Homo sapiens: one gene and its partner. The protein of the gene in region 2 interacts with the protein of the main gene of each other region in a pairwise test. Each region holds a gene or a part of one and is shown on either strand. Other genes may lie near its edges.

Evidence for each region.
Region 1: the proteins of KDM5B (region 2) and PAX9 interact in a two-hybrid assay, tested with the Homo sapiens proteins (one study listed by BioGRID).

The regions. Positions count from the first base shown.
Region 1 is NC_000014.9:36,666,248-36,682,984, reverse strand, and holds the end of PAX9 (paired box protein Pax-9), read right to left. Parts: intron 16,524-16,737; coding exon 16,384-16,523; intron 6,788-16,383; coding exon 6,533-6,787; 3' UTR 4,502-6,532; coding exon of another isoform or gene 4,501-4,501; 3' UTR 3,623-4,500; downstream 1-3,622. Other genes in the region: SLC25A21 (mitochondrial 2-oxodicarboxylate carrier), read left to right, coding at 2,266-2,327. UniProt on the Homo sapiens protein: Transcription factor required for normal development of thymus, parathyroid glands, ultimobranchial bodies, teeth, skeletal elements of skull and larynx as well as distal limbs.
Region 2 is NC_000001.11:202,734,163-202,742,422, forward strand, and holds part of KDM5B (lysine-specific demethylase 5B), read right to left. Parts: coding exon 8,229-8,260; intron 7,561-8,228; coding exon 7,205-7,560; intron 6,651-7,204; coding exon 6,512-6,650; intron 2,231-6,511; coding exon 2,051-2,230; intron 1,426-2,050; coding exon 1,267-1,425; intron 1-1,266. UniProt on the Homo sapiens protein: Histone demethylase that demethylates 'Lys-4' of histone H3, thereby playing a central role in histone code. Does not demethylate histone H3 'Lys-9' or H3 'Lys-27'. Demethylates trimethylated, dimethylated and monomethylated H3 'Lys-4'.

The DNA of each region.
Region 1 (16,737 bases), on a different chromosome or scaffold from region 2:
TGTCCTCCTACCCTGCTACACAAACACACATGCACATTCACCTTTAGATCTCAGCCCAATGAACCAACATTTCTATTAATCTAAGATAGAGAACAAGAGTCTGTAAATTGAAGCTGGTGAACAGCTCACACTTTCATATATTTAGGAAACACTTCCACAATTCCCAACCCATCTATCCCAATCTTTATAGGCCTTTACACATGGATTTTGTTTCATATTTGGGATTCAGACCTACCTTCCGTTAGTTATTGGCCCATGTGTAAAAGCTAACGCAGTAATAGAACGTGGGGAATTTTGTGCATCTCTGCCAGTATGTGGTGTTTTTCCTTCACCGCAGAGTAAAAACCTGCTAGTAGACCTAATATGAGAGGAAATCACAGCACCAGCCCTCAACCAACATTCTCAGAAAGGGATGGGCCTAAAAAGGGTGATGACAAGGGAGAGGTTAGCTAAAATGGTAATTGACTGGAACCTTCATCCAAAACTCTTAAATAATCTGACCCCAAGTTTTGTTAGAGGCTTGCAAATGTTTGGCTGGCTTTTTAAATGTTTTGCGTGAGAGGTCCTGAGTTGCTGTGGTGTTAGACTCAAAGAAAAGGGTTCTTGTGAACTGACTGTCCAGGCTAAGCCAAACTGTGAATATCTGGGAACCACTCACAGACCTGCCCTCCACTTCATTCCAAATGTGTGCATCCCAGCGACTTCAAAGCAAAGAAACCTAGAAAGAAAGGTACCACTGAGTTAAAGATTAAGACTTTTGAATGAAGGGTGAAATTTTTTTCTTTAAAGAATGAGAGAGAGAGAAAAAAAAAAAGAATGAGAGAGAGACAGTAAAAAAAAGAAAAGAAAGGTGAGCCTGGAATTTTTGTTCTTTGTTCTGGAGAAGCATCCAGCATTTTTACAATAGCCTTAGCAGCTCAATGTGGCTAACAATCAGGTACCTTCCATGAAAGAATCTTGAAGTCTGTGATTTAAACCTCAACTGTTACTAGGCCAAAAACTAACCCAACTCTGCATATTCTTGTCTTACATTGTGAATGATTAGTAAGAATAAATGCAGCGATTACCTACACATTAATGACCCTCTGTAGTGCAGCTCTTTTTGTTTGCCAGAGTTCCAAGAGGCCTAGAGAAGCTAAGAGGGACTAATAGAGTATCTTCATGGGTTAAAAATGAAAATTACAGGCAGATAATTATCTTTGGTATATGGTTACACAAACATGTGCAGCCTATAGATTAAAAAAAAAAGTATATGGCAGTGTGTTCAAAATAACTAAGACCCAAATCAAGTTCTATTTCTTTCCATCAGAAGTCAATCTTCTATTTCATGCAGCCAAGTCTTCTCTAAGTTGTGTTCAGGATATTTGTCCAAATTTTGATTTTGTGATGTTTTTCACACAGTTAGACATAAAAGGATAAAAAGAGATTATCCTGAAGGGCACAGGACACATGCTATTTACTGCATCAAATAGAACATAAAATGATCCATGTACAAATGCTTCTCCCAGTGGCTAGGTATTCAGCAGCCTCAGTGCCTGCTTTTCTGTATCACATTCCTGTTGACATAATACAGAGCATGTCTCTTCACAGCCAGTTATGTAGCTCTTTTCTTCCAAGACAAATGGTGGTCTCATGCCATCCAACCCCCACTACCAAATTTTCAAGTTCAAATCCATATACAACTGAAGCAGATAAAAGGAATGAAGGTTAGCTTTCAACCTCCTTTTGTTAGGTTTTGCAATGCAGATTTTTTAAATATTCAGAATCTAATTTCCACGTAGCAATGCAGTTTGAAAGCTATGACAGAAAACTAGACTCATCCATCAAGCACCATCTTAGAGATTTTCTTCTTGAATGCAATTAAGACTGCTAATTACGGACTGAAAAAGATAAATCCTTTATCTACACATGAAGAATCTGAAGGTTTCTGTTCACAGGAAAGCCACATGCCCTTACATGACTAAATATGCCTATATTTATTTACTTTTAAAAATTGAAAGTGCTTGAAAAAGAATCTGATGACAAATGATGAAAGTTGCAAAAACTCATGGGGAAAAATGTATTTGGAGACTCAAGATGGTCTTGATTTTATCCTGAGAATTTTCCACAGTAGTTTATATCTTGGTATTGAAGCTCCAGAACTGTTGATTCCGAACAGCCTCTGCCTGACAGGCTGTGCGAGACATCATGGATTCAGAAACCCAGTGGGAAAGCCAGTGCTATTCCAGAGGATTTGCAATAAAAAACAGCTCTTTTCTTTTCTAGGTGGTGCAGTGATGCTGCTGGTTTATGAATACACCTATTCATGGCTTCAAGAGAACTGGTGATTGCCTATGAAGTGTTTTTCCCCCTTGAGATAATGGATATTTGCTATGCAGCACCATGAAGAAGAGAGACTATCGATCGGCCAGGTGTATAATTATGAAGGAGAAAACTGTTCAAGAACAAAATCTATTTTAATACTTTAAAAAATGTCTATAGGCAACTTGAGATTATAGTTTTGGCTGTATAAATAAAACTGTGAGAAGAAAAAAATAATATGAAACAATGAGGTATTTAAAGTGAATATAGAAAAATAGCATAGAAATCATATATTTATTTCATAAAATAAATAGAAACTTTGTCTCCTGTGTTCCTCTTCAATGCTTCACAATGAAAATTCATTGTATTGATCAGCATTTTTCCTAAGAGGTCTAGAAATGCTTAAACTATTGAAAATAAATCAAATTATTCAAAGACTGGATTAAAAAAAAGTTAAGCCAAAATTTAAGCAGTTTTTATAATGAATTAAATTATTCCATAAATAATATTTAAAGAGCACAAGAAAAATTTTTTAAAGTGCACTAAAATGACCTTTTAAGAATGTTTAATTTTATGAATACTATGTTAAAATGTAAATCTGTTGGTTTTTTTTAGTAACTATGCACATATCAGCTCTATTTTCCTACATCTACTTTATATCTCATATTGCTGTAAGATAATAAATAGGTATTTTAAAACATTGTTTAAAACAGAATGTTAAAACACTGTTGTTTAAGCATGTTTAAATCAAGGTATTCCAAATCTCTTCTAACACAAGTAGGAAACATGAAATAAAATTTACTTTCCTCCACATAGTTCTCTTTGAAGATAAGTTTTGTTGATGAGATATTGTCATGTTAAATCACAAATTGGAAACACCTTTGGACCCATTTGTCAGCCATCAGTATTTGCATCCAAATACCTTTATTCAGCATGCCTACCTGTGCCATTTTTAGGAAGAATGTATAGAACAGAACTGCATTTTCAGGTTATTAGTTTTAAACGACAACTTCAGGTGGGAAGTCAGCTGTCTGCAGTATTAAAATATGTATGATGAAGGGGAAATGTTCTGAAAAAGAAATACACTTAGCATTTCTAAGGATTACTATACTAACATGTATCAACAAAAATATCTCCTTGGTCTTGATGTAACCAAACTTGATTTTATATCTGCATCCAGAGATGATGCTGATTCAGTAAAGTCAACAAGAATAACTGAAAGTCCATATGACACCTGTCCTAAGTTACTACCGTGGGCTATTTCTACTACGGGGCTATTTCACTAAAGCATTTTGAAAATAAAAAGTAAAAGATAACATGGTAATTATTACTTTTTATTAATTTAGAGCATTTGAAGTATAAAAATAAAAGGCTTTTGACATACTGTATATACATACATAGCCTTCTGTTGTACATCCTTTCCAACGTGTTTTTTAAAATTTATATTTCAGTCCAATATTCAATAAAAGGGTCATTAAAAACAAAACAAAATTGTGAAAAAAAAGAAATAAGAATGTGTCTCTGTTGCACAACTGCATTCTATCCTTGCAGGTAATATTCTTACATCCAATGAGAGCGCTGCCTGCATAGAGGTCATGAAATTGAACCTTTAACCTCTCCATGTGGATCAGATAGAAAAGGATTTCTGAAGAGTGCATTTGCCAGTTTAAAAGCAACACTTTTACCATCTATGAGATAGAGGAAATATGTCAACATTAACCAATAATAATCTTTAAAAGTTAACCCTTTAATCCATCCTATTTTCCTTCTCGTATTTTAAAAAGTGGCTTTAAATCATAATTTTCTTTGAATAGCAAATTGTATCTGATATCTTTTAAAAATTACTCCATGTGAATTCACTGTTAAGACCTAGAGGGAGAAAAGGAAACTTCAATACCATTAATATTAGATTTTTTAAAATACAAGAACCAGAAAAAAATTATAAATAGCACAATAACAAGAGATTTCTTAATTTAGATAAAGAAAATAACATTATTTGCATTTCCACACAAGCAAGTAATATTTTTTAAAGCCCCCTAACAGCCACCTAAAAACATTTGATAAAGAATAGTTCTGTACCTTACATCAGTTTTTCAGATGACAGGAGAGTCCCTGTATGGTATGGTTTTAAAGAAGTCTCCACCAAAATATTGGATTGGATCTTTGTTCCATTCAGTTTATAGTCTATTTTCTCACCAGACTGGGAACTCCAGATGTCAATGGAAGTTTTACAAGATCAAAGGAAGACTATGGCCCTGAGAGTTCATCTGCTCCTTCTGCTTATTCTTCTCCTGAAGTTATAATCCTCTATTTGTAGCACTGAATTTCGGTTGCTTTAGAAATAAATGCAGTTCAAAGCTCTCTATAAGATATCTGCTGTCTGAAAAAAGCAGTCACTCTAACATAATTTGTGTGTCAGAAATCTGCTTACTGTTTACATCCTAGTGATTTGAAAACCTAACTAATCTAGCCATCTGAGTTTTAAACGAAGCCACGAAACCGATGTGGTGGAACCGCATTGCCATGTAGACTGTGCACAGCACAGACCGGAAGAAATTAAAATCACCTAGGGAATCCATCTTCAACATCCATATCCAGTGAGGTGCTCTTTTAGTTATTGCACAGAATTAGTACCAAAAAACCCTCAATATATTAATTTTCCAACAGCTGAATTGTACCAATGTCCTAAAAACATATTTTTAAGCCTATATTGCCAAACAGGAAGAACTTCCTAAACAGAAGGGATTAAAAACTGTAGAATTTTGCCCCAGAAAATCAATTGTTTTAAAATACAACACATACTCACATGCTCACACACACATATACTCCACAACTGTTATTAACATTAAAGTGAAAAATAAATTGGTCTAGAAAGGTTTATGAGTTAAACTGTGTCCTGTAATTTCAGAAATGAATAAAGGGAATTTGTTAAAATTAAATAACATTGTATTTCTAGTACCACCACCAGTTTACCTACATGCGAAACATGCTTCTGTACAACAATGTAAACTTCACAGCAAGCCATTGTTACATTCATTAGAGCAGAATTTTCCATTTTCTTTAAATTACAACATTATTTGGGGCTGAGATTGCTGAACACACAGGTAAGCCAACAATAATAGGACAATTTAGTTTCACAGTGGTTTTCTTAACACAAAGTTCATTTTAAGCATCTTTGCAAAACATTTCACATTAAACTTAAGTTTCTAAGTGACTTCCTTTAGAGCCTTCTTGTTCAGATATTTTCCACCCTCTTGTCTTTATATGCTTAGCATGTGTGTTGTTTGATTAGGTACAAAATGGGAGACTGGCTTGTTTTATCTGTTTTTCGTGTCCTCTGCTGTAGAAATAAAGTGTCCTTCATGAGATGTTGAAGCCTTCACTGCATACACAAAATTTGGGGGCAAGTCCAGGTCCAGGAGCCCGAGCAGCCCACCACCAAACAGAGACAAAGACGTTGCCAGAAAGTCACCTTTGCAAAAAAGAAAGAAAAAAATAGAGAGGGGGTGGGGCTGAGGGGAGGGGAATATCTTATGGAATGAAGACACAAATGCACCATCCAGAGTCCGTATTTACAAACTAATAGAAAATATAAACATTATTGTATTTGGAACCAAGTCAAAACACCAGGGAGAGCTAGATTCAGATATTGCTTGGGTTCTACATATATTTTTCAACAAAATAGGTCATGTCTTAAACAAAGGATCACTCAAACAAGTCACTTATTGATTTGTTTCCTAATGATGAATTAAAGCTTACTTGGTTACCATATTTGATTAGAGGGTGTAGCATAATTTTTTCTATAAGTATTTTCCTTTATTGATTTTGCAAAATCTCAACAATTGCACATTTCAAAAGTTCAGGTTGATTTAGAATAAATATACACATGTGGTTTTACCAAAGACTAGTTTGTAAAGTTCCTTAAACCCTTTGAGGGGTGTAGGTTTCTTTGTTATGTTAAGACAGTATGTGGGCAACACAAATGTCTCATTCAATGCTTATTGTTGCTCTTGTTTTTAAATCCTAAAGTCATGTCAGTTTTTCTGCAAGAGAAAAGTTATGGCAAGAAATATGTAAGTGTCATTAGCACAAAGGATGTGAGTCCGTACAGCCAGCTTTCAAGGCAGAAGGGTTGGAGGGCAGGAGGGGTGGGATGTGAGACCTGGGAATTGGGGGAGGAGGTGCTGAGACAGGGAGACCCGGGTGAAGCTGCTGGAGACGGAATTTCCCATCAGAGCGCGGAAGCCGTGACAGAATGACTACCTTCTCTGGCTGCCTGCATTCCCTTGAACGCCAGCGATGCCGGAATGTCACAGTTGTGGGGAGACAATGAGGTGCCCCCAGCATGTTGCCACCCATGTCCAGCAACATAACCAGAAGGAGCAGCACTGTAGGTCATGTAAGGCGACACTTGGGCTGGGGTAGGGTAAGGAGCCATGCTGGATGCTGACACAAAACTGCCCACAGCTGGGAGACCATTTGGTGCCTGAGAGGAGTAGAAAAGAAGTGAAAAATAATCACATTATAGGAGTGAACATTTCACACGTTCTTAGAAAGAAGCAGAACTTAAGTCTGAGTAAGCCAGCAATGCTCTGACTCTACTCTCCAACTTTTTAAAAAAATTTGAGCTTTATTATATTCTAAAGACATTCACAGTCTTGCCACTTAAACAAACATAATGACAAGATATTATTCTTTCCACAAACATTTAGAGAAAGCTGCAACCAGAAAATTCGTAGTATTTGCTTGTGCCACTTGGAAGTACAGGAAGGAGGTGCAGGGTGAGAAAAGAATTAATGGCAATTAAATACTCTTAGAATCTGTTCGGCTGTCCTCATTGCCTTTGTCAACCTTCCTGGGACTTGGGTTTTGTTTGGCTCTTTTGTTGAGGCACTTGTGACAGGCCTGGTTGGTATAACTTTCATTTTCAGTAAAGAAGGGCACAGACTGCAGCCTGTCATGTTAGAAACGCACAACAAACACGACCTTCGTTAAAGAAAATATAGACCATATTTTAAGAGATCATATTGAAAATGCCCGTTGGACAAAGGACATACAAAAATCAGGCACTTTGTCTTGTAAGGATTTTTAAATGAATATTGCAAGTGCCTTTTCCAGGACTGTTTTATCAGAAAGGAAACTGTCTTTCCCCATATAAAAGAACTGCATATGCCTGGTTTTGAAACTGGAAATTTTGCTTGCAAAGTTTTTGGGTCCTGTGATGTGAGTTTTTAAAAGCCACGTGGATAAATCTCTTGAAGTGAATTTAGAAATTAAAATCTTTGTTTGCAAACACAATGCAGCAGTCCCGGCAGGCGAGCCTGCCGAGAAACCAGTGCTGTCTTGGCATCCAGTGAATTATTGTTGGTATCGTTACTATTAACAACACTAAAAACACCCTGATTTTTAATCCTGATTCTGGCATGAACACTGGGCATCCTTCTTCAAGTAGTCTAATTTTTTCCCCTCAATTTTTATACTCTTTAGAAATAAAGTGTAGATGCTGTGTCCTGATAGTTACATGAATGAACTACCATTTCAATATATTTCCTAGTGAAAATACGATGTAAATACTAGAATTTTATGAGGAAAATTGATTTAATCCTTAGAATTAAGTTAATCAGATGTATGTTAGCTAGGTACTTTTTCCCGTTCAATTGCAACACAGGAATTACTTTCTAATTTAATTTATTTGGGCTATTGTTTTCACTTCTACATCTATGAGAATGCAGTGGTGCGGTCTCAAAAACTATTTTCTCAATGCAGAGTAAATGAATATGTACATGGAATAGAATACATACGTGGGTATGACAACATTACTCATGCATTTCTGACAAAAAAAGAAAAATATTAGAGGGGTTAGCCTTGTGTCTATGCTCTGTAAGAACAAACACCTCATGTTGTGTTTTTCAATGTTGGTTCTTTGAAAATAGGGAAAGAGAAAGGAAGCTAAAGTTTCTTAAGTGTGTCCTATGTCCCAGGCACCAAGAAATATCCAACATATTTTACTGAGTAATGAGTATTAATGAATTATATAGTTCATTATAAATGATTGAGTTTATCATAATTACAAGATAGTGTGTCACAAATACAACACAATGTTCAACTGAAATTAAAGTGTATTTTAAGGGTCCCAGAGAATGATGCTGCTGCATTTTTTAAATCAAGAAACTACCGCACATAACTGTTGAATACAAATGAAATCTTATCCTCTTTTTATACAAGGATATAGATTAAGAGGTTTAGCCATGTACCCTCAACCAATTGGCAAGCCAGTGGCCATGTGTTAAAAAAATTTATCACCCCTGCCCAATGCAGGGTCCTCTGTAGCATATCATACTGTTTTTCCTGAACACTTAAAAGATAGATGCAATTTAATTTAAAACTAGTGCATCTTTTGAGATAACATCTGGTAACAAATTCTTTTCTCTCCTAGAACATGATTCTCATTGTCAGATCCCTTCTAAAAAAAGAATAGTTTCTTCCACTTTTTGAGAATGGCTGATTATGTCTCAAAGGAGACACACTTTAAGGCTCTCAGGAGATGGGTATCAAGATAGAGAACTATCAAATTACAGGGGAAAAAATCTAGTTTTGCATAGAGATTATAGTTTTAATCATTTTTATTTAGAATTGTCCCAATAATCTATGATAAATGAGTTTGGAAAGAAATAAATCCAATTCAGTTATGGAAAGGTGTTCACATCTGTATGTGGTGTTAACTAATATTTTCATTTCCAGCATTGACTAATGTTTTATACTACTGATGCCAATGTGAACTAAGAATAATGAAATAAGAATGCTAACATTAAAATTACTTCTAAAATAATAAAAATCTTTGGCCAACATCATATAGGGACATAAAGTTAAAAAATTTAATATTATACATGGCAGAAACAATGTTCTAGTTAGCAGAACAGAACTGTTGGCGAGTTCTATTTTTCATCACAGCTAAATTTTTCCTACCCATTCTTTTTTCTTTGTATTTTATCTATCATTCAAAATTACAGTTCTCTCTGAAATCCTTGCTTAGTCATCTTCCCTTTTCTTACACCTTTGCCCTTGGAACTCTTGCTCATTGATCTGCCCCATTTACTTGGACTCTTCAGTTGTTTTGTTGCAATGTCTATGGTCCCCTTACATGGACCCACTTGGAAGATGGCCCTCAGAGACATGCTGCATTGAACTTTTATCTTAGATAATGTTCCTGGAATTTAGGGGCAGGCAGGACATTGGATTTAGGCCTGTATTAACTTCTAGTGCCTTATTTATTCCATGATTACATTCATTTATCAAGTGTAAAAAAATGAGCAAATTTTTCCATGTTTGTCCAACTTCTCATACTTAATGCACAAACTTGCTTTATGTCATTATTCTTAGTACTAAATATTTCAAAGTTCTCTTAAATCCACAATATTTATTTAGTATCATTTTAGTGATGCAATCCCTTTGTACTGCAGAAAGACAGGGTAGGAAGAGAAGCTCGGAGATGGTTGATTTCATCTCATAGAAAAAGGCGGCCGGGCACGGTGGCTCACGCCTGTAATCCCAGCACTTTGGCAGGCTGAGGCGGGCGGATTGCCTGAGGTCAGGAGTTCAAGACCAGCCTGGCCAACATAGTGAAACCCCGTCTCTACTAAAAACGCAAAAATTAGCCGGGTGTGGTGGCAGGTGCCTGTAATCCCAGCTACTTGGGAGTCTGAGGCAGGAAAATTGCTTGAACCCGGGAGTCGGAAGTTGCAGTGAGCCGAGATCGCATCATTGCACTCCAGCCTGGGCAACAAGAGTGAGACTTCATCTCAAAAAAAAAAAAAAAAAAAAAAAAAAAAAAGGAAGAAAGAAAGAAAGAAAAAAGAAAAAGGCAAGGAGAGGCTAAAACGTTTGCTTAAAAAAAAAAACAAACATAAATCTTTAAACTTAAACAGTATAAAAATAGCCCTTAGTTTTCTCTCAGGTTAAATTATGACCCTAGCTTGGGGGTCTGGAGAGTTTTGTCTTAATTTTACTTTTTACTTTTGAAGCTCAGATTTATAAATTTAGAAAAAAAAGGAGCAAGTAAATGTGCTTTAAAATTTACCTGCCTCCTGCCACCTTCATTATTTATTCATTTTAGTGACTCAATAAACACATCAATTTTCTCACTATTAATTTTGACACATAACATTAGTAAAAGATATAAATCTCTACTGGGTCAAGTAATTGTTATTTATGAAGCAATCACTGAAAAAGTAAAATTTTCCACCGCAAAGGAAAACAACTACAGGTAGCATTGATGTTTGTTTATTCTTTCCAGTAAAAGAGTACATGACTTAAACGTCCCAAATCGGTTTAATGTTTTCAGTGAAGGGCATGTAATTAATCTGAAAAGCTAGTTAGGCTGAGTAGAGACTACCAAATCTACACTATAAATATAGTGGGAGCAAACATGCTAAATTACTCTATTTAATTGGATTGTAAATATGATTTATAAATCAACCAACATACGGAATCCCCAGGGAAGAGTAAACAAATTTTCCAAATGAAACCCCAGCAATGGGCATGTAATGGAAATCTCATTTTTGAAAATGACTTTACCTAAAGATTCCATAAATAAGACTTCAATCCATCAACTCCTTTCTCATGTGGATCTTCCATGAAAGGCATGAGAATTCTTTCCCCTGAAAGAACTGTGCAAGGGTGCTCTCTATAGCAAACTATCTTCTACCTAAATTTGAGAAGGAGATTTACTAATACAAAGCAAAATAGACTAAATTGCATACCCTAGAAAAAGTAAGTTACTGCTTTGTTTTAATACTTTTAGGAAAAGACCAACTTCATCACACTGACATTAACGGAAATAGTCTAGAAAAAAATATATAAGATGCAATGTAGTTCTTCTAGTTAAGGTTATCACAAGAAGAATGAAAGTACAAGTTTTAATTTCGTTTGTTCCAAATGTTCAAAATACAGATTTACCAATTTTTTAAAAGTAACTTTGGTGAATATGTTGAGGAACTGTATTGGCAGAGGGCTAGATTGTAAACTGTCTGAGGACAGGGACTTGCCTTAATCATCTTGTATCCCCACAAAACAGGATACATCATAAGCATTCCACAACCATATGTATATTTAAGTTAGTATAGGTTTGTGAAAGCAAAAGATGTGACACTGTAGCTTAAAAAACAAAGCAAAAATGTAGGCACCGTTTATCACAAAACAAGCATTACACTTTAAGCAAGCAAAATGAATAAAGCTGTTGAAAAAAGTAAACAGAAGTTCTAACCTAGCCATTTATTACTTGATTTATGGTTATTCCATTTATCCTCCCTCCTCCAAGTAAAGGAAAATACGTTAGTATCAAAACACTTGTGACCACCATAAAACTGGTATGGCAAATGTCTGGCAGTTAGAGGTTATAGACCATTATTCAAATTCTGGGAATTGTCTACTCAACATTATTTATCGTGAAGATAAATGCAAATAACAGTGCCAGGTCCTCTACCCACAATCTGCTTTCACTTATCAGTTCAACCTGGTCCTCTTATGATAAAATGAATTTACCTTGGCTTTATAATAAAGTAGATTTAGCCACAAATAGAGATGTGCTTCACCTAGAATTTCAACCTCGATATCATAAGCAAGAAAAAGTTTTGGATCTGAAAATAAACAAGATTTTCTCTTTTTTGGTGAACTCATTTTTCTGTCATTCTTCCATTTTTAATGCATTATGCAATGACCTAGTAAAACATACCTGACAAAATGAAATGATGGTTATAAATATGGTTTCAACATTCATCCAACAAGATCTTAATTATGCTTACTTATCATATTGTAGATGTAAATGTCTCTAAGAAATGGAAAGCCGCTATTTAAAAGCTTTTCTAAATTTTATAATTTTCCAAAATATTATTAAAATTGACATAGCCTTGAAAAATTTGCAATTACCTTTCCCTGCTATTTTATACAATACATTTTACTGATACATGATCATTAATTTTATTTTGAAATACTACTGGTTAAAATGTAACCAGGTCAAAGAATGTTTTTCATAACAGATAACATTATGAATTTCAAAGACACTCTGCTGGCATTTGCCTAAGATTTCATTGTCTATAAATCATAACTTATTTACAAAAATTAACTTTAATATGAAGACAAATTTAGTGCAATATCATTTATATCTTCCTGAGAATAGTACATCCACAAGGACAGCCAGTTTTTAAAATAATACACTAGAAAATCACATTCAGGATTCTAGAAGACTATCTTCACTTCAAATGCATGTGCAAGTAAATGCTTCATAAGAATTTCAGATTATATCTTTAAATTCAACTATTTTCACAACTTAATTCTGAACTTTTAAAAAGTTCAAGTATTTATAGACTATTCTCTATTTCTGACATCTCAGTCTGTAGCTAGTGTTATATTAAACTTGCCAAATTAATATCTGCAACCCCAAAATGAAGATACCCAAAGCTTATAAATCTGTCACTCCAATTACTTTAGAGTATCAGATATGCAATGTATCTTTCTTGAGACAGTATGCCCATTTGTAGAAAATTTTTCAAGAACTATACAATTATTTATATATAGTTTGAATAAAATTGAGGCATTAATTCATGAAATACTTCCTAAAAGGGCAAATGTATTCCAGTCCCTATGATTCTCTATATAAGGTTTTTTGGCCACTCAATTTTATTCCATTGGAGTTTTATGCTTTCAACAGAAGAGAACCGGCCATCAGGAAGCAGAGAACATTGTTGCCATTCAGAAGTAAATGGAATTAAGTACTTCTAGCCCCAATATTAACTGTGGGTATAAAAAAGCCAAAATAAATATTCTATCCTCAGAGACAATAAGGACTTCTGAATGGCACTGCAAAATATTAATTACAATGTAATATTAATATGTAAGACAAGTTAGAATATTCTACACTGAATTTTCAAAGACAAAAGATAGGTATATGCATAGCTGAAATGTGCATACAGTTTTAATTACTAGGAATCAGGACATCTGTCTTTACAGTTTAAGCTGAAAATAGAAACTCTAGATTATGGTAATCAATAGTATCTATACTCAGTTGCATAGTTTAGCCCTTTGGTAATTCTACAGATGTCCTCAAGAAAAATATGCTTTAAGCTCTATGATTCTGAATTCTCAATTTCCTTCTTTGTATAATAAAATTAAACTAGTATCATATAATTTTGCACTATTTAATAACAATCACAAATGCCCTGAAAGTGGGAAAAATTTTAAAGCTTTTTTTTGGCCAAAGACATTCAAGTTATTGTCCATAATATAAGCAGAGGGAAAAATACGTGTTACCAGAGTTTACATTTTGGTTGAAATATGCTGATTCCATTTTGAAAAATAACTTTTAAAAATAAATCTGCCCTTTGAATATTGGTAAGAGAAATGCACATATATGGGCAACACTTTACCTTTGTATGTTTATAAACAAGTATTAATGTGCAATTTAACCTTACATGAAATCAATGTCTAAAGTTCAAAACTGCTCAGAAAAATGGCACGGCTGAACTTGGCACATCTTCAACATTAAGCACTATTTTGATAATTATCATAGAGTAGCCACTAATTTATATTATTCTTAGAAACTTTTCAGGTTTTGAAATTTTACATCATTTGAATTATCTAACTATTAAATACATTGCAATGCAGAAGATTAGCATATTGCAATTAAGAACTTCGCAAATGTAAGTTTCATATAAATATTTTTATTCTGGAAAAAATAGCTTATTAAGTATTTAGAGCAATATTTATTTGGTTACTTATTTCTTTAAATTATATTCTTTTATAAATGTGATAATTTAGTGATTTAAAATTTAGTATATAAAATGTAATCTATTTTTAATAATCAGAATATCAATTATTTAAAACTTCAAATTTTTTATTTTAAATAATTTGTCAGTTTAGTTTTGAAGTGTATTATAAATTAAGCATTTCCAAACAAATTTCAATGTTAGATCTATAATTCAAGGAAGAGAAAATAAAAATTACTGGCCGGCACGGTGGCTCACGCCTGTAATCCCAGCACTTTGGGAGGCCGAGGTGGGTGGATCACGAGGTCAGGAGATCAAGACCAGCCAGGCCAACATGGTGAAACCCTCTCTCTACTAAAAACACAAAAATTAGGTGGGTGTGGCGGCGCGTGCCTGTAATCCCAGCTACTCAGGAGGCTGAGGCAGGAGAACCGCTTGAACCCGGGAGGCAGAGGCTGCAATAAGTAGAGATCGCGCCACTGCACTCCAACCTGGCGACAGAGCTAGACTCCGTCTCAAAATAAATAAATAAATAATAAGTATAAAGGGTTTTTTTTGGGATTATGACTGCTTGATATATAAACTGGGTTCATCAATGACATGTGGGAATTAGAAACTTTTTCAACTCTATACTTCACAATGTTATTCCAATCAATGATGACCTAATAAAAAGCACTGAGCGCCTATTAAATGCTTGCTTCTATGGTAGGTGCTTTATATACACTCTTTCTATTGTTTGTAACAAAATCTCTTGAAGCTTTTTGACTATGGTCTCTCAGAACAAAGTATACTCTGATAAATATTACTTACTTTTACACGTGTCTTTTTAACTGCCACTTAGAACCACAGACAATACTTAATAAATGCTTACTATGTGCCATATGGTTGCATTATCTCATTGAATACTCATAACATCTCTGGGTTGGGAATATCATTTCCCTGTTTTAAAGATGAAGAAATAGAGACTAAAAATTAAATATTTTCCTAAGAAGTCGTACAGCCAGAGATCGGAGCTCCTAACCATTGTACTATTCTGCCTTTTCTTTGCAAATTACGAATTAAGGGTGGGTCGTTTAGTAAAAGAAAATGACAAACTTCCTTATCATTTCTCATTGACATTCTTCACAGTAGAAACAGACTAAGGAAAAGGGCTCTCTTTCCTTGCTATTTTCTGTGTTATTTGCCATTGGAGAGCCACTAATATGTATTCTGATTCTATTTCAACAAAATAAGAGAGGGAAGAGGAAGTGGAAATGGGATTTGTTACAGAAAATAATGACTAAGATGTTTTTTCAAGTGAATAAGAGGAACAAATTCCACTTAATTTTAAAAGCTGATTTTGACAGACAAAAAAGCATTAAAAATTTTAAGTCTTCAAAATAATAAAAGGAAAACTGAATAGCTTGAGGCTTTGGAATTGAGTTTGGGATTAAGAGATTTGCAAACCTACTGGGGTCTGCTGGGGAAACCTTACATTGCCTTAAGGTCCGGTTTTTTGAGAGTTTTGAACTCTTGACTCCAGGACGGTGATGAATTTAGACTTAAATCTGGGGCTTTTGTTGTGGTGGTTGTTTAGCTTTTCTCGGGGGGAAAATAAAAACACGAGTGTTTTAAATTTTCCTTTGGAGACATGAGGGAGGGACGGAGGGAAAGAAAAATTAAACGGTCCACAGCCAGTCCGTATAATTTGAGGTTTTCTCACTAACTTCCTTGGGAGATTACAATGTGACCTTTAGTCGAGAAAATGGTAGCTTTGTTACGTTTATCTGGGTGCCCCTCTCCGCAGGATTGGCCAAGCGTGTTTGTCCGAGAGCCACCGGAGAGAAAGTCCGAACGTGAGGACCCCGCAGCCGCAGTCGCACCGTGGGGCCGAGACCCGGGGCGCGCGTTTCGCGGGCGTGAAGGCGCGGCTCTGAGGCCCCAGGGCTGCTCCGCTCGGCCCTTCAGAAGCGCCTTCTTTGGTTAACTCTACCCCCAACGAGAGCCGCCGAAAGGGCTTCGGGAGCCGCCTCCCCAAGCTCCCGGAGGCCGACAGGCCTGGAGGCGCTTCCCAGAGCCTCGCCCCGGGGAGCTGCCGCCCCAGACCCCCAGCGCCCTGACGAGCGCTCCCGGCCCCTGGCGGGGGTCGAGGCCCCAGCTCCGCCTTCCAAGGCTCAGGCCTCTGCTTCGCCCCAGTCCACGAAGGATCTGGCTCGTAGCAGCAAAGGGACGCCAGCCTGGGCTTCTCTCGCGGGAAGCTCAGAAAGGGACCCATCACAAAGTGTTCCATCGCCTAAATCCCCGCCGCCACGCGGCCCACCTGGCCTGACCCTCGCCTCCTCACCTGACCGTACTTGGCTTCCTGCTCCAGGGCTCCCTTCTCCAACCCGTTCACCGCGTGCGGGGCGGCGGCGGGGAAGTTGTTGCGGCCCAGGCTGCTCCACTCCTCCACCTTGGGGCTGTGGTAGGGGGAGCTGTCGCTCACTGATGGAGAGAAGAGAGGGTGTCAGGCCGGAGGCCCAGCCCGCGCGCCCCACTCTTGAGACGGGACCCAAACCCGCGACGGAGAGCTGGAGGGCTTAGACCTTGGGTCGGCTCCCTGCCCTTGGCCTCCCGAGGGCGCTGGGCCCAGCCGCGACCTCCTGTGCTTCCAGCCCAGGGCCTGGTGAAGTTTTACTCCCCTCAGAGTAGGCCTTTC
Region 2 (8,260 bases):
AAACAAGTTCTCAAAAAATCTGTCACAGTTAAAAAACCATTTCCAATCACCACATCTATCCCCTTTCAGATCCATCACGATTCACCAGATGAAGCACCCTTACAAGGCCAGAATAAACTCTCCATTATCTCTATTAAAAAAAAAAAAAAAAAGCCTAAAAGCAAATCAGGTAAAGACCTTTGGGTATATTAAAAAAAAAAAAAAATCCACTTCTTTTGTAAATATAATACACAGGTAATATGTGTGGGTTATATGATAACAAGGTAACTTCTGACAGCTTAGAGATGGAAAGCAAATGACTAACCTTTGAGTTCTACCATAAATTAACAGATAATACGTAGGGAGAATTCTTAAAACCAGGGGTCTACAGACAGATGGACAGACTAAAATCTACAAAAGATACTGCATATAAAGTTTCAAACCAACATATATACACCTCAGGAGAGGGGGACTGTAACTTTCAGTTAGTCTTTATAAAAACAAACCACAGATGGAATGGAGGACCTCTGATGGCAGAATTCTGTCTAGAACCTGACTGAATATACGAATATACACTAAGAACATCTGTGTCAAAATACCTAAATAAATCAAGGCAACCCATGTCTATCACAAGAGGTCTGGCAGCTACAAAGAAATCAATGGGAGAAGGTGTCCAGATCCACAGATGAACCCATTCAATCTAGTCCCAGTAGCAGGTATACATTCCCACTCTAGAACGGGCAATGCTTTGTGCCATTAAAAGCATCACATAGCTATCCCTTTTTTATCCCGATAAGGTGCTTAATGTGTAACATTAGTTATACATTGCCTCATCTTCTTTAAACTATCATCTTTGAATCAACAGTATTTACTAAATGCAGGTCAGAGATGTAAGGTATTCCAGATGAGTATCAAAGTATCCAGTAAACTTTTAAATGTACTTCTTAACTATAAACTAATAAATTAGCATTGCATTTTCATACATCTATTAATATTAGTCTCAATATCTTTAGTTAGCATTCCTGGATCAACCCACAGGCACTAAACAAGACTGTTTCTGTGCCTGCAAGACCCTGAGACTGGGAAGCCTACCCTGAATCTTTCCCACCTCTATGCATCTTACCATTCAAAACTCTTAACACTTGACAATTTTCAAAAAGTCTTTTTAGTAAAACTGAACGCTTTCAAGTTACTCTACTTGCCTTCTCCAAATTCCTATAAAACAGAAAGGGTTAGAAATTATTCTTCCCAATAACATAGAAAGGAGAAGAAAAAAACCCTACATACAGCTGAAGCAGTCTCCTTGCTTTCAGTTAAAGCTCTCTCCAGGTCACTCAGACTCTCTAATTTGGTGCTTTTTTTCTTTCCATTTGGCAAGGGCTCCTTTAACTTTCTCTGCTTCCTTTTCAATCCCAAAAGGCCAATATCACATCGAGGACACAGCACCTAATGTGGGACAAGGCACAACCAATGGTAAAATAAATTTCAGATAAAGCATTATGTAGGAAGTCCCAAAATAAAAGCCTAAGCAGTAAAAAGGATGTGCATTTCTTAGTATTGAAGATTTTCTTTGGAACATGCAACCCTGAGGCTCTCCTTTACAAAAGGAGGAGGAAGACTCATAAAAGATAGACTGATTCCTTATTCAATTAAGTAACAAGTTAAAAATGTGATATATACTGGTTGATCCCAGTCATGATGCACAAGCAAGTTTACAGAAAATACAAAAAGTGCAGTTAAAGCACTTTTAAAAAATGGGGGAGATCATTTATCAGGCTTACTAAATTCAGGTGGGCGAAGCACGGCCAAGTTTAAGAGTCCAATTTCAACACAGAGGAATTTCACCCAATAGGAAAAAATTTTCTTCTTTAGATACTGTTATGCTAAATCAACCAAGAAAACATTTAAAGGTTGCTTCACCAGAAAATTAGAAGAGTCTCCCTGGCTTTACGGGAAGAACAACTCACAGAATATAGATTAATCTGTGATGTCATCTTTGTATGTGATGAACTGCATGTTTTACCAAACTAGGAGATCTAAGGTCTTGCAGATGAGCTGGTTGTAAACTTACCTCTAAGAGAGAATATGGAGAATTCTCAGTCAAGAATGTATTAACAGCACATTCTTTCCAAGCCTGAACCTCAGCTACTAGGGTTTCCAGTCTTGGCAAAGAATTCAGATGTACGGGGATAGATCGGCCTCGTGTAACAAGTTCTATGAGTGTGTCTAACACTGGCACACGTCCTCCAGCCTAATAAGTCAAGAAAAATTACAGCAGTTTAGAGAAAAGAACACTTCTATGAAAAACAGGAAAAGCTTAATTCAGATTGGTCCATTGAGTACTTCAGATTACTCCATGATCTCAACATGCTAAATTCACAAACGCTGACTAACCTGCCAGCTGACCAATGATATTGGGGGTAGAAGTGACATTTGTTCCTTCATTACACAAACAGAGAACCTAGTTTGGGTCTTTTGTTGGTGGTGGTGGTGGTAGTGTTGTTTTTTTTTTCTTTTTTTAAGACGGAGTATCACTCTTGCCTGGGCTGCAATGCAGTGGTGCAATCTCAGCTCACTGCAACCTCTACCTCCTGGGTTCAAGCAATTCTCCTGCCTCAGCCTCCCGGGTAGCTGGGATTACAGGCACCCATCACCACGCCCAACTAATTTTTATATTTTTAGTAGAGATGGTGTTTCACCATGTTGGCCAGGCTGGTCTCAAACTCCTGGCCTCAAGCAATCCTCCCACCTTGGCCTCCCAAAGTGCTGGGATTACAGTGAGCCACTGTGCTGGGCCTAGAGAACCTAGTTTGTGCTAGGCTCTAAGGATACAAATGTGAACATGGCATATACTGTGGTCCCTTTGTTCTATTTATACCCTTCTAAATTCATTCATCTCATTGGTTCCTATTAACAGTTTGAAAAAAATTTCAACAGAAATGAAGGTTTGTAGTAACTCAAGACTTTCATACTGAATTACACAAATAAAAGGCAACAAAACAATATTTTACCCCAATCCACTCACCAATGATTAATTAAAGCAACTCAATATAAATTATTCAGGAAACTAAAATATAAGTTGAGACAGCCCAGTGGTTCTCTAACTTTACCATGTATAAGAATCATCTGGAAGGCTTGTTTAAACACAGTTTCCTTAGTCCTATCCCCAAATATTCTAATTCAGTGGGTCAGAGGAAGGTCCATAAATTTGCACTTCTAACAAGTTCCCAGGTAAAGCTGCTGTTGCCGATGCTAATACTGCTGGTCTGGGAACTGTATTTTTAGAAAGAGATAGCCAAACTAGGAGAGTAAAAGCATTAAGGTTATGGAGGATGAAATGCATTGGTGTTGCTCCAATACAATGTAAAACTTAGCATCACTAATGGTAGGTCATCCAGATATATCTCCTGTTGTGATGCAATATAGAATATACAGTATTACCTGACATTTTAATGCATTATATTAAAAAAATGTTTAACTTGGATGCACCAGGGCTTTAAAACTAACTTCCAATTTATAGGAAATACAGAGAACAGAACACTCCACAAAGAAACAATCAAACAAATCCAGAAGGTGGAGCATACCATGGGATAACTGTCTAGTCAGTGACATGAGAAAAAGTGGGGTGGGGAGGAAAACGCTACAAGATTAAAAGAAACTTAAAGAGATGACAATTAGGTGCAACATGTGTTTCTGGGTTAGACAAACAGCCATAAGGGACATTTTTGGGACAACTAGGGAAGACTGGGTAGGTTGATATTTTGCTGCCTTTGATATTTATTCTTACAGAATTAAATCTGTTAGGGCATAAATGTTCTGATGGACACTTAAGAATGTGACTCATAAATTAATGCTATTCCTATGATATTTAATTTAGAAATCCGAGTGCTTCCTATGTGTAAAGCAGAATACTGCATAACATTTAAATAATCCACTAAATAGGAAGTAGTTCCTTGTTGTTAGTCATGTGTAGCAGTCCTTAAATATATGATGCAAAAAAAAGGTAGGCTACTTTTTCAGGAATGAAGCAAAAAACTTGCCTTTTGCCCTTAATGGCACTGTTACAAACATAGTAAGTAGCATATACATATAAAATATGAAGGAAATAAACTCATCCAGAAGCATGCCCTTGCTTTCTGATTTTATATGTCAGCCTCTCCTTACTGCCATGACTTCACCTTCTGGCTGCTAGCAATCATGGAGTAAAAAGGAGGACCATAACTAAAACTAATTACTACAATACCAACTATCATTGACAAGTGCCTGCATCTAAAACTCTCATTAACAAAGTTTATGTCCATAGTAAATACTTTTGTTTTTGTTTTTGGCTTGCTGGAGTCAGTCCTTAATTATGTAATCTCCTCAAACAATATATCTTCTTTTCCCTATTAACAAGAACAGATGCAAACATTTGTCTAGAATTGTCCTGTTTGGTATTTCTTGTTAGCAATTAGCCAATTAACACCACTTAAAATTACACAAATATTCAGAAAGCCAGATCGTATTTTATTTCTAGAATTTGAGGACTTCAACAAAATAGAACTTGAGACTTTTTTTTTTCTCAATAGGTCAGTAACACCTATTGGTTTATGATGATAAGAGATAAGGGAAGACATCCCCCATCAAACACGTTTCAAATTAAGTCATTCAGCCAGTCGTCTGAAAACTGGGAAAATCATATTAAAGAATGAATTCTTTTTGTACCTTAACAATGCTACAAGTGAATTTAATTCTTTTTTTAAACTTATATACAGGTCAATAAGTATAACATCTAGCATAAAACCACAAATACTTGGTGGAAATGACTTTGGATACTTTGGATAATTACTTTGGAACTGGGTAGGTTTTATTTCTTTTGTAGGGTTGGGAGGGTACTTTTAAGTCACTACTTCATGAAAATTCTGGGCCTTGGGGCTTAGCTGGGCATTTAGTCATATAACTAGATTCACTGAATTTGCTATTACTGATTGTCTGAACTTCAAAGTTGTGGACAAGCCAACAAGAGGTAATCATACTTATCAAAGAGTAGAAAACTACTTTCTCTCACTACTTCATTGTTAGCTCTTTTGCTTCAATCTGCAGTCAAGTACTCAAGTTTGTTATGAAAGACTCCCCAGCTCCCAGAAAAAGTTGGTGACACTGTCTAAGCTTTAAATATTTGAGACAACTGGTCAGGATAATAGCTGGTAAGTACATCCAAATAAGTATGAATAGAATTAGTCTTCTGGTCAACCCCTAAAATACTGAAACTGTGCAGCAAGATCCAACGTATTATTCTTCACAACTTTCCAATATTGCTCTTTTTTTTTTTTGCCTTTTTTATTTTTATTTTTATTTATTTATTTATTTTTTATTGATCATTCTTGGGTGTTTCTCGCAGAGGGGGAGTTGGCAGGGTCATAGGACAATAGTGGAGGGAACGTCAGCAGATAAACAAGTGAACAAAGGTCTCTGGTTTTCCTAGGCAGAGGACCCTGCGGCCTTCGGCAGTGTTTGTGTCCCTGGGTACTTGAGATTAGGGAGTGGTGATGATTCTTAATGAGCATGCTGCCTTCAAGCATCTGTTAAACAAAGCACATCTTGCACCGCCCTTAATCCATTTAACCCTGAGTGGACACAGCACATGTTTCAGAGAGCACAGGGTTGGGGGTAAGGTCACCGATCAACAGGATCCCAAGGCAGAAGAATTTTTCTTGGTACAGAACAAAATGAAAAGTCTCCCATGTCTACTTCTTTCTACACAGACACGGCAACCATCCGATTTCTCAATCTTTTCCCCACCTTTCCCCCCTTTCTATTCCACAAAACCGCCATTGTCATCCCGGCCCGTTCTCAATGAGCTGTTGGGTACACCTCCCAGACGGGGTGGTGGCCGGGCAGAGGAGCTCCTCACATCCCAGTAGGGGCAGCCGGGCAGAGGCGCCCCTCACCTCCCGGACGGGGCGGCTGGCCGGGCATGGGGCTGACCCCCCCCACCTCCCTCCCGGACGGGGCGGCTGGCCGGGCAGAGGGGCTCCTCACTTCCCAGTAGGGGCGGCCGGGCAGAGGCGCCCCTCACCTCCCGGACGGGGCGGCTGGCCGGGTTGGGGGCTGACCCTCCCGCCTCCCTCCCGGACGGGGCGGCTGGCCGGGCAGAGGGGCTCCTCACTTTCCAGTAGGGGCGGCCGGGCAGAGGCGCCCCTCACCTCCCGGACGGGGTGGCCGGCCGGGCGGGGGGCTGACCCCCCCACCTCCCTCCCGGACAGGGCAGCCGGCCGGGTGGGGGTCTGACCCCCCCACCTCCCTCCCGGACGGGGCGGCTGGCCGGGCGGGGGGCTGACCCCCTCACCTCCCTCCCGGACGGGGCGGCTGGCCGGGCAGAGGGGCTCCTCACTTCCCAGTAGGGGCGGCTGGGCAGAGGCGCCCCTCACCTCCCGGACGGGGCGGCTGGCCGGGTCGGGGGCTGACCCCCCCACCTCCCTCCCGGACGGGGCGCCAATATTGCTCTTTATGGATGCACTTACACATTCTGTATATACTTTTTAAAACCAACCTGCAGGCCCTCTACATCCTGAAGCCAGTCTCTGGCTCTCTGCACTGAGTCTTTCAGAGCCGCACCATTGGGCAGATATGCAGGGATCTCTTCGATTTCCTTTACTGCCGTAGCAAGGCTATTCAATGAATGTCGTGGCCTACAAAATGCAAACAAAGACTTCTTAGCATTTTATATGATGGTTCATTTTTCTTATGGTTACCAAAAAAACTAGCATTTCAAAGGAAATTCAGTATGGCAAATAATTTTTTTCAAATGACATTGTCTATTCCTGTTGAAAATTATCTGCACTGTTTTCTTGCAGAACAGTGCCTATTAACTCTCACACATTTCTCTTTAAGACTCCTTGGAACCGTATTAACTGTGAGTTTAAACAGCTTCACCTATTTGTAAATATTTTCCTCTCTCAAAGACACGATATTAACAGGATCCAGGGAAATTTCATTAAACCAACTCTAGAAAAGGTGTGTCCAATTGAATTATTCATTTTTAATCAGTAAAATAAGAAAAAATTAACATTCTTTTACTCAGGTCCCAAAGCAGCTCCAAATATCTCAGCTATTTCTACATGTCTTCCACATGCATAATAACCGCAGCTACTGAGCACTTGCCATAGACCAATCATTGTGCTCTGTGTTTAAGCTGGAGATAACTGTCCAACCTTCCCAAAGAAAGAGAAGTCTGCTTTTTCACCTGGCCTTGAGGAGACTCTTGGCTTTGTCGTCCCAGTGCTCTGACACTGTGAGCAGTTCCTGCAGCCGGGCCATAGCTTTCTCCACTGCTGAATACGGGGCCAGCCCTACCCCTAGGTCTATGAGACGTCTCATATCATCTAAAGTAAGGGAGCTGGGGTCTAGGCAAGCTTGCTGCACCTCTTCTAGCCAACGGGCTTGTTCCAAACGGATACGCATCTCAGCAAGCTGTGGAAGTTCAACATCAAATTCAAAGCTGACATCTAGCAAGTCCTGCAGCTCCGCAGCACTAGGCGTTTCCTCAGAGAGTAGTTTCTGACTATGCTGTTGAAAATCTTCTACACGATTCAAGAGATCCTAAAAAAAAATACACAGGTTGTTGCATTAAAACAGTAATTTCAGTAATTGGCTTCTTTCAAACTTAGAATCTTAAATTCATATTCAATGAGATCCCATTTAATTTTAGTAATAATATAGGTAAATAAGATAACACATAAGCCAACTAACAGCAAATACTAAGTGACTATAACAGACACCTTATCCCAGCTTAAACTAGCTGAGGTCACTTTCTCTTTTTTTTTTTTTCTGCAACCTCCGCCTCTTGGGTTCAAGCGATTCTCCTGCTTCAGCCTCCCAAGTAGCTGGGACTACAGGCATGCACCACCATGCCCGGCTAATTTTTCTATTTTTAGTAGAGATGGGGTTTCACCATATTGGTCAGGCTGGTCTTGAACTCCTGACCTCATGATCCACCTCCTCAGCCTCCCAAAGTGCTGGGGTTACAGGTGTGAGCCACCATGCCCAGCCAAGGTCACTTTCAAAGTAAAAATTTCCAACTTTATTTCCCCTCTGTGGATCTACTATAATCTCTTTATATACATATACCACTCAATAGGTTATTAAAAGCATCTGCAAATAAATGTACATATTAATCATCAAAGAAGATTACTTAGTAATATCAATAGAGTTTATATACAAAATACAGGATTACCAAAGTATTCTCCCACACATCCCTCTATGGTTACCTTTAGTAATGGTGTCTGACTGAGGACACATG